Linked DNA regions of Homo sapiens. The protein of the gene in region 1 purifies or fractionates together with the protein of each later gene. This does not show direct contact. Each region holds a gene or a part of one and is shown in the gene's direction. Other genes may lie near its edges.

The links.
Region 2: the proteins of ABCA9 (region 1) and PMM1 purify together in Homo sapiens (affinity purification with mass spectrometry; one large-scale study listed by BioGRID and IntAct). This does not show direct contact.
Region 3: the proteins of ABCA9 (region 1) and PMM2 purify together in Homo sapiens (affinity purification with mass spectrometry; one large-scale study listed by BioGRID and IntAct). This does not show direct contact.

What each region holds. Positions count from the first base shown.
Region 1 is NC_000017.11:69,022,811-69,026,464, reverse strand, and holds part of ABCA9 (ATP-binding cassette sub-family A member 9), read left to right. Parts: coding exon 1-88; intron 89-2,111; coding exon 2,112-2,251; intron 2,252-3,654. UniProt on the Homo sapiens protein: Transporter that may play a role in monocyte differentiation and lipid transport and homeostasis.
Region 2 is NC_000022.11:41,583,210-41,586,863, reverse strand, and holds part of PMM1 (phosphomannomutase 1), read left to right. Parts: intron 1-670; coding exon 671-788; intron 789-2,260; coding exon 2,261-2,337; intron 2,338-2,491; coding exon 2,492-2,583; intron 2,584-2,805; coding exon 2,806-2,905; intron 2,906-3,654. UniProt on the Homo sapiens protein: Involved in the synthesis of the GDP-mannose and dolichol-phosphate-mannose required for a number of critical mannosyl transfer reactions. In addition, may be responsible for the degradation of glucose-1,6-bisphosphate in ischemic brain.
Region 3 is NC_000016.10:8,807,708-8,811,361, forward strand, and holds part of PMM2 (phosphomannomutase 2), read left to right. Parts: intron 1-3,371; coding exon 3,372-3,471; intron 3,472-3,654. UniProt on the Homo sapiens protein: Involved in the synthesis of the GDP-mannose and dolichol-phosphate-mannose required for a number of critical mannosyl transfer reactions.

The sequences.
Region 1 (3,654 bases):
GGAAGGTGTTCATATCCAATGGGAAGCTGAAGTGTGCAGGCTCTTCTCTGTTCCTTAAGAAGAAATGGGGCATAGGCTACCATTTAAGGTACAGCCCTGAATGTTGGAGACGTGTTGACAGATGCTGAAAATGCTGGAGGCAGGTGGTATCAGCATCAATGTGTAAAAGTAGGCCCTATAACCACTAAGTTCATTTCAAGGGAGCTATGGTAGAACTAAGGCATAATTGCTTTTTTAGCTAGAATGCAGGATATATGAGATTATAGACATTGAGCATGCAAGGATGATTAATCTAGGCTTAAATAAAATTTTTGAAAAATATTTTCACAACGTGTTGCTTGCTAAGAGTAATTTGTTGATATTCCGACCCTTTCTCTTCTCATATTTTAGATGTTTTATTTTTGTTCATCTTGACAATTTCAATACCCTGTATTCTCCCTGACTTCATTTCTTTCCACCATCCTTTTGTGGTTTTTTTCTCTTACTGATAATAATTATTATCATTACTGAGTAATGTCTACTACTTTTTAAGTATTGGCTATGTTTTAGGTACTTACTAAGATATTTACATATAGAATATTCATATTATTGTATTCAATCCTCTAAATAACTTTAAGAAGATACTATTGTTATTCCCCTTTGACAAGTGAAAATACCACTTCAGATAGTTTTAACAATCTGCCAATCTCCACGACTTGTAAATGATAGTCTTTGTTTCAAAATTACAGGTGTGATATGAATGGCTTCCTATATTTTGCATTGCAATGTAGATATTTTTTAAAAAATGATTCAAATCACTTCATCCTGATGGATAAATGGATCCCCTCATTTTTTACTCAAAGTGGCTAATCTGATCAAATCTACCAATCTATCATTACTACTTGTTACAAATCTACCAATCTATCATTACTACTTGTTACAATCTAGTAGAATCAATACCCTCTATTGAATACTCACTATTCTCTAGCTATGTTTCATAGTTCAGTTGTCTTGTTTCTGCTTGAGAGAGGATATCTGTCAAACATGTTCTTCTTCAACCCATTTAACCATGTCCAAGTCTTAACCATTTCTGAAAGTATTTTCTCCTTAATGAGTATCCTCTTTTCTGGAACGCTGAAAGCACTATTTTGAACTGTTGCCTTAGGCAACTTAATTAACTTCTTTGATCCTCAGTAACTTCATTTATGTAATAGCAGTAATAATACCTACTTTGCAGTTAAGGCTAAGAAATATTGAGTGAATGAATACTTGACAAGCTGCAAAGTGCTCAACTGAGTTAACTCAACTTCCTTCTCCCTCACATCTTCTGTCATATGCTGCTTTATATTATTTTTATGTTGGAAGCTTCTTTAGAGAAGGTACTGCATTCTTCCTATTTGGTATTCTTGATAGCACTTGTAAGTACTATACCTTGTAAGTACAGAATAGCCTTTTTTTCAAACTGATTTTTTAGGTTTGTATCATCAGTCAATTGTGATCTTCTCACCACTCTGTCACCTCAGCACCTTTCAATGTATGTGATTAACAGTGGAGTTTCAAAAATCAAATAATTTCATGAGTAATTTTATATATTCTTAATAAAGACAGGCCAGATTTCACTTGAATAAATTTTGGGCCCCAAAATGATAAAATTAGCTTTAGCAGAATCTGCATTAGCATGACATGGGGCCACATTCTTAATGACTGTATCACATCACCTCCATTTTTTGTTTTCTCATGCTCAAGTCTGAGTTTCGGCAGAACTCATACATTACTACAAAGGGAAAGCTCAAGGTTGGGAGGTTGGGTTTTTGAGTAGATGCTGACAAATTAAACATTTCCCTTTACCTCACCCCAGGCAAGATCTGGCTTAATATCTCATTTCTCCAAATAAGAGTCCTTGAGTTACCTCTTCCCACTCTAATCATCCCTTATACTAATTCTTCTGCCATGTTGCATAGATTTAATGGTTTGGACTTTATTAGTAGTTTTACATCTTACTTTGTCCAGTAAACTACACATTTTTTTGTCTCATAAATATTAATAAAGTGACAAGCACATACTACATAATTAGGAAATTGTTTTATAGACACAGTTGGATAAAAATAACTTTTATTCTTTTTAAATGTTAGTTTGCATCTGAATGAAAGGTGTGATCCAGAGAGTATAACATCACTGGTTAAGCAGCACATCTCTGATGCCAAATTGACAGCACAAAGTGAAGAAAAACTTGTATATATTTTGCCTTTGGAAAGGACAAACAAATTTCCAGGTAACAAAATGTAAAGATGACAGAATGGTTTTGGAATGGTGTTATTAACAATAACAGTGGTGATAAGAATGATGGCTAGTTTTAATGCTTGCTAGATGAATGGCACAATGCGTTTACTCATTTAATATTCCCAACTCCAAGGTCACTTATAATATTACCCCTTAGTATTATCCATATGCTACTTATGAGTAAACCAAGGCATGTAGATGTTAAATATGCTTCAAGTCAATTAAGTGCAATTAAGAGGCGTAGGCTAGCAGCAAGATAAAATAAGAATTATTTGGAAAATTTGTTTCAGTAATGAATGAGAGAGTGTGGTCAGGGCAGGAACAGGTATATAAATACAGTGGCAGACTATCGAAGAAGAGCTGAAAGAATTGTACACAATAAATAGGTTGTTTTAGAAACACCAGCACATACTGATATAATCCAAGTTATTGAACATAACTTGGATTGGCGTGCATTCTGCCAAACACTTCAATGTACAACTTTGCTGCAAACACAGAAGCTTGGAGAACTACTGGTGTTATTACTTTTCTATGGTATCTCCCAATGCACTGTTTCACTTCCTAAGCGTTTTGAGGTAGAATGCTTCTTAAGTTTACTCTGTAAAAATGTGTTTGCCATATCAAGTTCAAGAAATTATACCGGGGCCATTGCTGCATGCTTGAATCAATAAGCATGACATAACCTTGGTCCATAAAGAAACACAGAACCAGACAATAAAGTGCAGAGATTGAAACTCAATGCTAGAGCCAGTCTAGATTCAAACACCAGCTATGCTATTATTAGCTCTATAATCCTTAACAGGTTATAGTACTATTCTGTATCTCAGTTTCCTCACTTGTGAAAAGAAAATTAAAATAGTACTCTAGGGTTGTTATGAGGATTAAATGATTTAATACCTTCAAATGTATTGAAATATTAAATATAAATAAAGCACTGGAACAATACCTGACATGCAGAACCTATGGTATTTCATCAGGTGTAAGAAGCCCTCAACTACAGGATGTACCACTAAGAAAGAAACACAAAGAAATAATGCTACCATTTAAAATATGATCTACTATCATTTAAGATCCATTATTATTTCAGATATATTAAAAGATGATGAAATATATCTCTTAGAATAAGTGAAATAATGGTTCACAGTGCATACACAATATCTTTGAGATATGTATCCTTATAAAAACAGAAATCTTTGTGAAGATCACACAGCAAAGTTTTAGCTGATTGCTTATTAAATGCATTCCAAAGTGGATGAGAAATTTGGAGAAAGACTGAAAAACAATTAACCCTTAGGTAAGTTTAAGGACTCATTAGAAATTTTGACTACATCTCTATTTTTCTTTGTCCAACACATAATTAAGATTGAAGTCTTTAATTTATCCCAATATTGAATT
Region 2 (3,654 bases), on another chromosome or scaffold:
TTACTGGTGTGAACCACCGTGCCAGCCCATGCCTGGCTAATTTTTAAAAACTTTCGGCCAGGCACGGTGGCTCACGCCTATAATCCCAGCACTTTGGGAGGCCCAGGCGGATGGATCACCTGAAGTCAGGAGTTCAAGACCAGCCTGGCCAACATGGCGAAACCCTGTCTCTACTAAAAATTTAAAACTTAGCTGGGCATGGTGGCAGGCGCCTGTAATCCCAGCTACTCGGGAGGCTGAGGCAGAAGAATCGCTTGAACCCGGGAGGCAGAGGTTGCAGTGAGCTGAGATCACGCCATCGCACTCCAGCCTGGGCAGAGGTTTCAGTGAGCCAGAATCACACCACTGCACTCCAGCCTGGATGACAGAACAAAAATTCGTCTCCAAAAAAATTTTTTTTTTCATAGAGACAATGTCTTCCTTTGCTGCCTAGGCTCTAGTCTCAAACTCCTGGGTCAAGTGATCTTTCTGCCTTGGCCTCGCAAAGTGTTGGGATTGCAGACCTGAGCCACAGTGTCCAACCTGTCTAATTTTTGGTGTCTAAGCTTTGTACTGCTTCAGATCCAGGTAGAATGTGGGCTTCCTGGGTTCTCAGCACTAAGTGAGGGCTAAGTGGAGGTCCCAGACATGTTGAAAGCCAGAATGCTATGCTTCCCCTCTCCCCCCATAGAAAATTGACCCTGAGGTGGCCGCCTTCCTGCAGAAGCTACGAAGTAGAGTGCAGATCGGTGTGGTGGGCGGCTCTGACTACTGTAAGATCGCTGAGCAGCTGGGTGACGGGGATGAAGGTAGGAGTGAGGCTGGGGGTAGAGGGAGTGGGGAGTTTGAGAGATTCCTGGGCGTCTTCAAAGATCCAGTCCTGCTTCTGTGGGGCAGAAGAAATAGAGAGAGAGCAGCCAGATAGTTCCCTTACTGATTTGACAAACACTTGAGCACTTCCTATTGCCAGGGATTGTGCCAGGCCCTTGAGAAATGGCTGGGGCAAAGCAAGCAGAACCTGCCCTTATGCAGTTTACATTCTCATTTCTCCCTGCTGAGTCTTGATTTCCTCATCTTTAAAATGGGCTGAACCAGCCGGCACAGTGGCTTACGCCTGTAATCCCAGCACTTTGGGAGGCCGAGGCGGATGGATCACTTGAGATGAGGAGTTCAAGACCAGCCTGGCCAACATGGTGAAACCCCGTCTCTACTAAAAATACAAAAAATTAGCTGGGTGTGTTGGCACGTGCCTGTAATCCCAGCTACTCGGGAGGCTGAGGCAGGAGAATCGCTTGAACCTGGGAGGCGGAGGTTGCAGTGAGCCAAGATCAGGCCACTGCACTCCAGCCTGGGTGACAGAGTGAGGCTACACATCCAAAAATAAATAAATAAATAAATAAATAAATAAATAAATAAATAAAAGGGCAGAACCAATGATGGCTACCATTTGTCAAAAATGATCATGTGTTAATGTCATTGCATTTGATCCCCACAATCACACTTTAGAGTAGGCGTGATCATCCCATTTAACAGAGGATGACTCTGAAGTTATCCAGGAAATCGACTGGACCTCAGAGCCCCTGGTCTCAGCCCAGTCAAAGTGGGTGCCTCCAGTTCCTCAAGCCAGAAACTTCCTCGAATTTTTCCTTTTCCCCACCTCTTGTTTATTCCATCAGCAAACCCCAAAATATCTCCCTGTCCCCTCTGTCTCCATCTCCACCACGCCATCATAGTCCAGGTAACCACGTGCCACCCAGACCCCGCAACAGCCTCTGGGCTGTGCTCCCTGTGCCTCCCACCTCCCACCCACTCCAACTGCTTCGCCTGGCAGTCAGAGCTGAAACCTCCAACTCTCCCATGCAGCCAGCCTTGAGAACCCAGTGCGATGGCAGCTATAGAACAGAAGGGAGCCCCTCTGCAGAGGGGCAGGGGAGCACAGAGTGGAAATGATGCCCTCTGCCAGAGAGTACTGCATGGCTTCCAGAGGAGGAAGCTGAATCTTGGAGGATGAGTGGCAGGGAAGCCAGGGAAGGGCGGTTCTGACAGAAGGACCTGCATGGATGCCTGTGTGCAGAGGCCCACAGGTGTGACTGGCTTCTTTGGAAGAAAACCAAGCTGCAGAGGGAGAAAGGCTGGAGAAGCAGGTTGTAGCCTCAGATTGAACAAATGGCCTTTGAATGTGAAACCAAGGGTGTAGGCTTCCTCTCTCTTTACTTGCCCGTGGGGTCACAGACGTGGTCTCACACTCTTTCTTCCTCCTGTCCTCTATGTGACCCTGAAGTCATTGAGAAGTTTGATTATGTGTTTGCCGAGAACGGGACGGTGCAGTATAAGCACGGACGACTGCTCTCCAAGCAGGTCAGTGTCCCCCAGGGCTTAGCCAGGGGCACCCCACTTTTCCATAGTGGAGCAGTCCAAGGGGGCTTCTGTCCTGGGCTGGGGGAGAGACACTGTGCCTGTCTCAGGGTCAGGCAGCCCAGGCCACGCTCAGAGCCCTGTGTTCCTTGGCCAGACCATCCAGAACCACCTGGGGGAGGAGCTGCTGCAGGACTTGATCAACTTCTGCCTCAGCTACATGGCCCTGCTCAGGCTGCCCAAGAAGCGGTGAGGTCCCACCAGCCTGGTCTCCAGAACCTGGGGCCTGAGGGAGGAGAAGTGTGGGTCCCTCAGAGGGAACCTGGAGATACTTGGGCCCCTGATTTTTTGCGGGGAGTGTGGATTCTTGTCCCCTTTGAAGTCCTAGGAGGCTGGGGTCCCAGGTGGGGCTAGATTTGAATTCAGGGCCGTTCTGGTTCTCTCTGGCTCCCCGCCCTCCCTCACCACCAGTGGAACCTTCATCGAGTTCCGGAATGGCATGCTGAACATCTCGCCCATCGGCCGGAGCTGCACCCTGGAGGAGAGGATCGAGTTCTCCGAACTGGACAAGGTACCACTAGCTATGCAATCTTAGGCCTGTAGGGCCTCAGTCACTCAATTTATCTGAGCCTTTATTTTCTCATCAGTAAAATAGACTGGGGGATGTGTTCTGATTTAACTGATACCCTTTCAGGCACCTACTGTGTGCCATTGTTGTAGACACACCTGCATCTTTACAATGCTGCTGGTCCCCCTTCCTAGGTGACCAGCACCAGGCAGCCACCCACTGAGCCAGGCCAACACCTGGGAACATCATTTCCACCTTCCCACCCACATCGGGTCCAACAACTCTTATTTCATCAGCCTCTCGAGTCAGTGTCAAATCTGTTCATCTGCAGAACTGAGACCCCACTTTCTAGATTACCCCTTTCCCCAGCCCCAGGCTGCCCCAACTTTCCTCTCTGTCCCTCCCTACCCCTTGCATAGCCCTGCCAGCCTGCTCTCCAGCAATGCCACTGAGAACCTTTCTTTCTTTTTCTTTTTGGAGATAGAGTCTCCAAAAAAATAGATAGAGGCTGGAGTGCAGTGGCATGATCTCAGCTCACTGCAACTCCCACCTCCCGTGTTCAAGCGATTCTCCTGCCTCAGCCTCCCAAGTAGCTGGAATTACAGGCATGCACCACTACACCCAGCTAATTTTTGTACTTTTTTAGTAGAGGCAGGGTTTCACCACGTTGGCCAGGCTGGTCTCGAACTCCTGACCTAAGGTGATCCGCCTGCCTCGGCCTCCCAAAGTTCTGGGATTACAGGCATGAGCCA
Region 3 (3,654 bases), on another chromosome or scaffold:
TGGTCTCCAACTCCTGGCCTCAAGCGATCCTCCCACTTCACTCTCCCAAAATGTTGGGATTACAGGCATTAGCCACTGCCCCTGGCTTTCATAAATGTTTGGTTTGGGGACCTACCTTCTGCCATGGGTACAATTATCTCAGTTCCATTTTTAAAATAATAGTAATAATAATAATGATGAACATAAATGCCGACAGTAAATTTAAAGACTGGCAGGAAATAGACCCAAATGTTAACAGTGGCTATTTCTTGATGGTGAGGTTGCAAGTGATTTCTTTGAAATCCTTCTCATTTTTACCCCCAGTTTTCAACACTTACTATGTAACACCTTAATCATCAGGGTTGGAATTAAGTGGCAATTCAATTTCAGGGCTGGGTGTACTTCAGAGGCTGCTTCACACTATTAGGATTCATAACCTGAGCGCCTCCTGCTCAGCATCTCCAGCCAGAGTGCAGGAATGTCCCTTAGCCGAGGGGGAGGCCTGCATGAGACAGGCTGGACATGGACTTGGTTATTGTTGCAGCTGGGTAATGAGCACATGAGGACTTATCCTATTCTGTTTACTTTTGTGTGTGTTAGAAATTTTCCATGGCGAAAAGATAAAATATACAAATATCCCAGGTCAGTTCCATTTTTACTTTGGGCTGAGCACTAAGGGAGGATTTAAAAAAAAAAAAGGCATAATCCTGTCCTCAAAGAGCGTATCATTTAGCGAGGGAGAGGGATGTGGAGAGCCATAATTCCAGAACAGTAGAAGAGACCTGGTGAATCCAGGAGGCAGAACTGAGACCCACCTTGATCCACATTTGTCCACATTTGCCTGACAACACTAACTACATGCCCCACAACGGCCAGGCAGATGCAGTAAGACTTCAGAGAGCCCAGGTCTTTAGGGCGGAACTGATTGCTTAGTAAACCACCTTCAGCCTTGTTTTGGGGAAGGCTTTCTAAACTGCATCAACTTCTCTCTGTGCCTTGGAAATGAGAAGAAGAATATGTCCTTGAGTGGGGGGGCATTAATTGAGCTCTTTTTCTGATCATTAGGACCTTTAGCCCTAGGGTCACCCGGGGCACGGTCACCCGTCCCCTAGTGCCTCAGTGCTCATACACACGTGGTAGAGGACAGGCTGGGCCTCTGCCAACTCCGGGACGGCCTGGACATGGGATTATTGAGAGAGATTTTTAGGCTCGCATATTTTGTTACATCATTTGCCTCTTTCTCTGCAAGTTGAGCAAAATAGGAGAGAGGATCCAGACGATTGAGATTTTGCTGTTTTTACTTTAATGAGTATTCATTGCTTCCCAGTTTACAAAGTACCTTTACATAACTGGCATGTTTGATTTTTAACAAGGCCCTTTGGAGGTAACCAGAGCAAGTGCCATTAGCCTTTCTGTAGGTGAATAAGAGGAGGCTTGGAGAGGTGCCCAGAGCCACACAGCCTCCTAAGAGGCCACACTGACATGGAATCAGGTCATCAGCCCTGCACGTGGCATGTGGTCTCTCGGTATTTCCAATGGCCAGTGCCAGGACATCAGGTCTGTGAGATTAAAATAGTAGAAAAAGATGAGGGAAAATGTTTCATAGGGTTCCCAGGCATCAGCGTTTAGAACTGGAAGACACTTTTCACTGCATAGTTTGTCAGAAAATGCTTAAATTTCATTGGTCAGAATGATATCTAGCTTACAAGTTATCTGAACTTTTAAGAAACTGGGTGGTTTTCTTTTTTTGGTTGTGGGGTTTTTGTTTGTTTGCTTGTTTTGTTTTTTTTGAGACAGAGTCTGTCTCCCAGACTGGAGTGCAATGGCATGCTCTCAGCTCACTGCAACCTCCGCCTCCCGGGTTCAAGCGATCCTCCTGCCTCAGCCTCTCAAGTAGCTGGGACTACAGGCATGCGCTACCATGTCCCGCTAATTTTTGTATTTTTAGTAGGGACAGGGTTTCATCTTGTTGGCCAGGCTGGTCTTGACTCCTGACCTCAAGGAATCCGCCCGCCGCAGCATCCCAAAGTGCTGGGATTACAGGTGTGAGCCAAAGAAACTGTTTTCAGACTCAAACTGGAAACCGTGGAAAAAAACTCTTTGTTTTTTGTTTTTTATTTTTTGTTTGTTCGTTTGTTTTTTGAGACGGGGTCTCCCTCTGTTACCCAGGCTGTAGTGCAGTGGTACGATCTTGGTTCACTGCAGCTTCCACTGCCCGGGCCCAAGCAATCCTCCTGTCTCAGTCTCCCAAGTAGCTGGGAATACAGGCATGTGCCACCATGCCCGGCTAATTTTTGTATTTTTTGTAGAAACGGGGTTTTGCCATATTGCCTAGGCTGCTCTCAAACTCCTGAGCTCAAGCCATTCACCCACCTTGGCCTCCCAAAGTGCTGGGGTTAATAGGTGTGAGGTACCGCGCCCAGCCAAAAGAACATCTTTAAACATCGTCATTTGAAGTGACTAAACTAATGTTAGCTTCTCATTTTCTGTGATCAAATCAAACATTTAGGAGCTGTCTGCTACTGGGTAAATTGAATTTCCTCAGTTATTACTGAGGCTCGTTGGACAATTCTCAGAGCCTTTTTCTGTGTAGCTTTGCTTGGTACTATCAGTCTGTTCAGAAGCTCCGTAGCAAAATAGATGTCTGGTACATGTATTTTCAAACTCTTCTAGGAAATGACTGCTGTTGCCAGTGCTGGAAATCATTTTCATAGCTCTTTATTAACCACAAAATTATCTGCCCAGTAGCAGCACTGTGCAACAGAAATAGAAAGTGAGCTATGTATAATTTTAAATTTTCTGTAGCCACATTTTGAAAGAATGAAAAGGAAGAGGTGAAATGAATTTTAATAATATATTTTATTTAGCCTGATATTTCTAAAATATGACTTTTTTTTTTTTTTTTTTTGAGACAGGGTCTCACTCTGTCACCCAGACTGGAGTGCAGTGGTGTGATCTCAGCTCACTATAACCCCTATCTCCCAGGCTCATGGAATCTTCCTGCCTCAACCTCCTGAGTAGCTGGGATTATAGGCATGCATAACCATGCCAGGCTATTTTTTGTATTTTTTGTAGAGACAGAGTTTCGCCATGTTGTCCAGGCTCAAAATATGAGCATTTTAACACAAAGTCAATATACAACATGATTGATGCAATTACATTCCTTTTTCATACTAAATCTTTCAAATCTAATCTCAATTCATATTAGCCACATTTCAAGTCTTAATAGTCACAGTAGTTCATGGCTACCATATTACATAGCACAGAGCTGAGAAACATTGACCACACTAGCCTCTGCTTTTTAGAATTTCCCAAGATTTTAGGCTGTTTATCTATGTTGCCCAAATGAATAACGTGTTTTTGGAGAAACTCTGTCACCCTTTCATTCCCAGGGGTACTTTCATTGAATTCCGAAATGGGATGTTAAACGTGTCCCCTATTGGAAGAAGCTGCAGCCAAGAAGAACGCATTGAGTTCTACGAACTCGATAAAGTACGTCTTTCTGAAATATCTTTGGTGAATGGCTGGGTTTATGGAAATAAGATATGGCCTGGTGTGGTGGTTCATGCCTGTAATCCCAACACTTTGGGAGGCCAAGGCAGGAGGATCACTTGAGCCCAGGAGTTCAAGACCAGCCTAGGCAACATAGTGAGACCTCATCTCTACAAATAATAA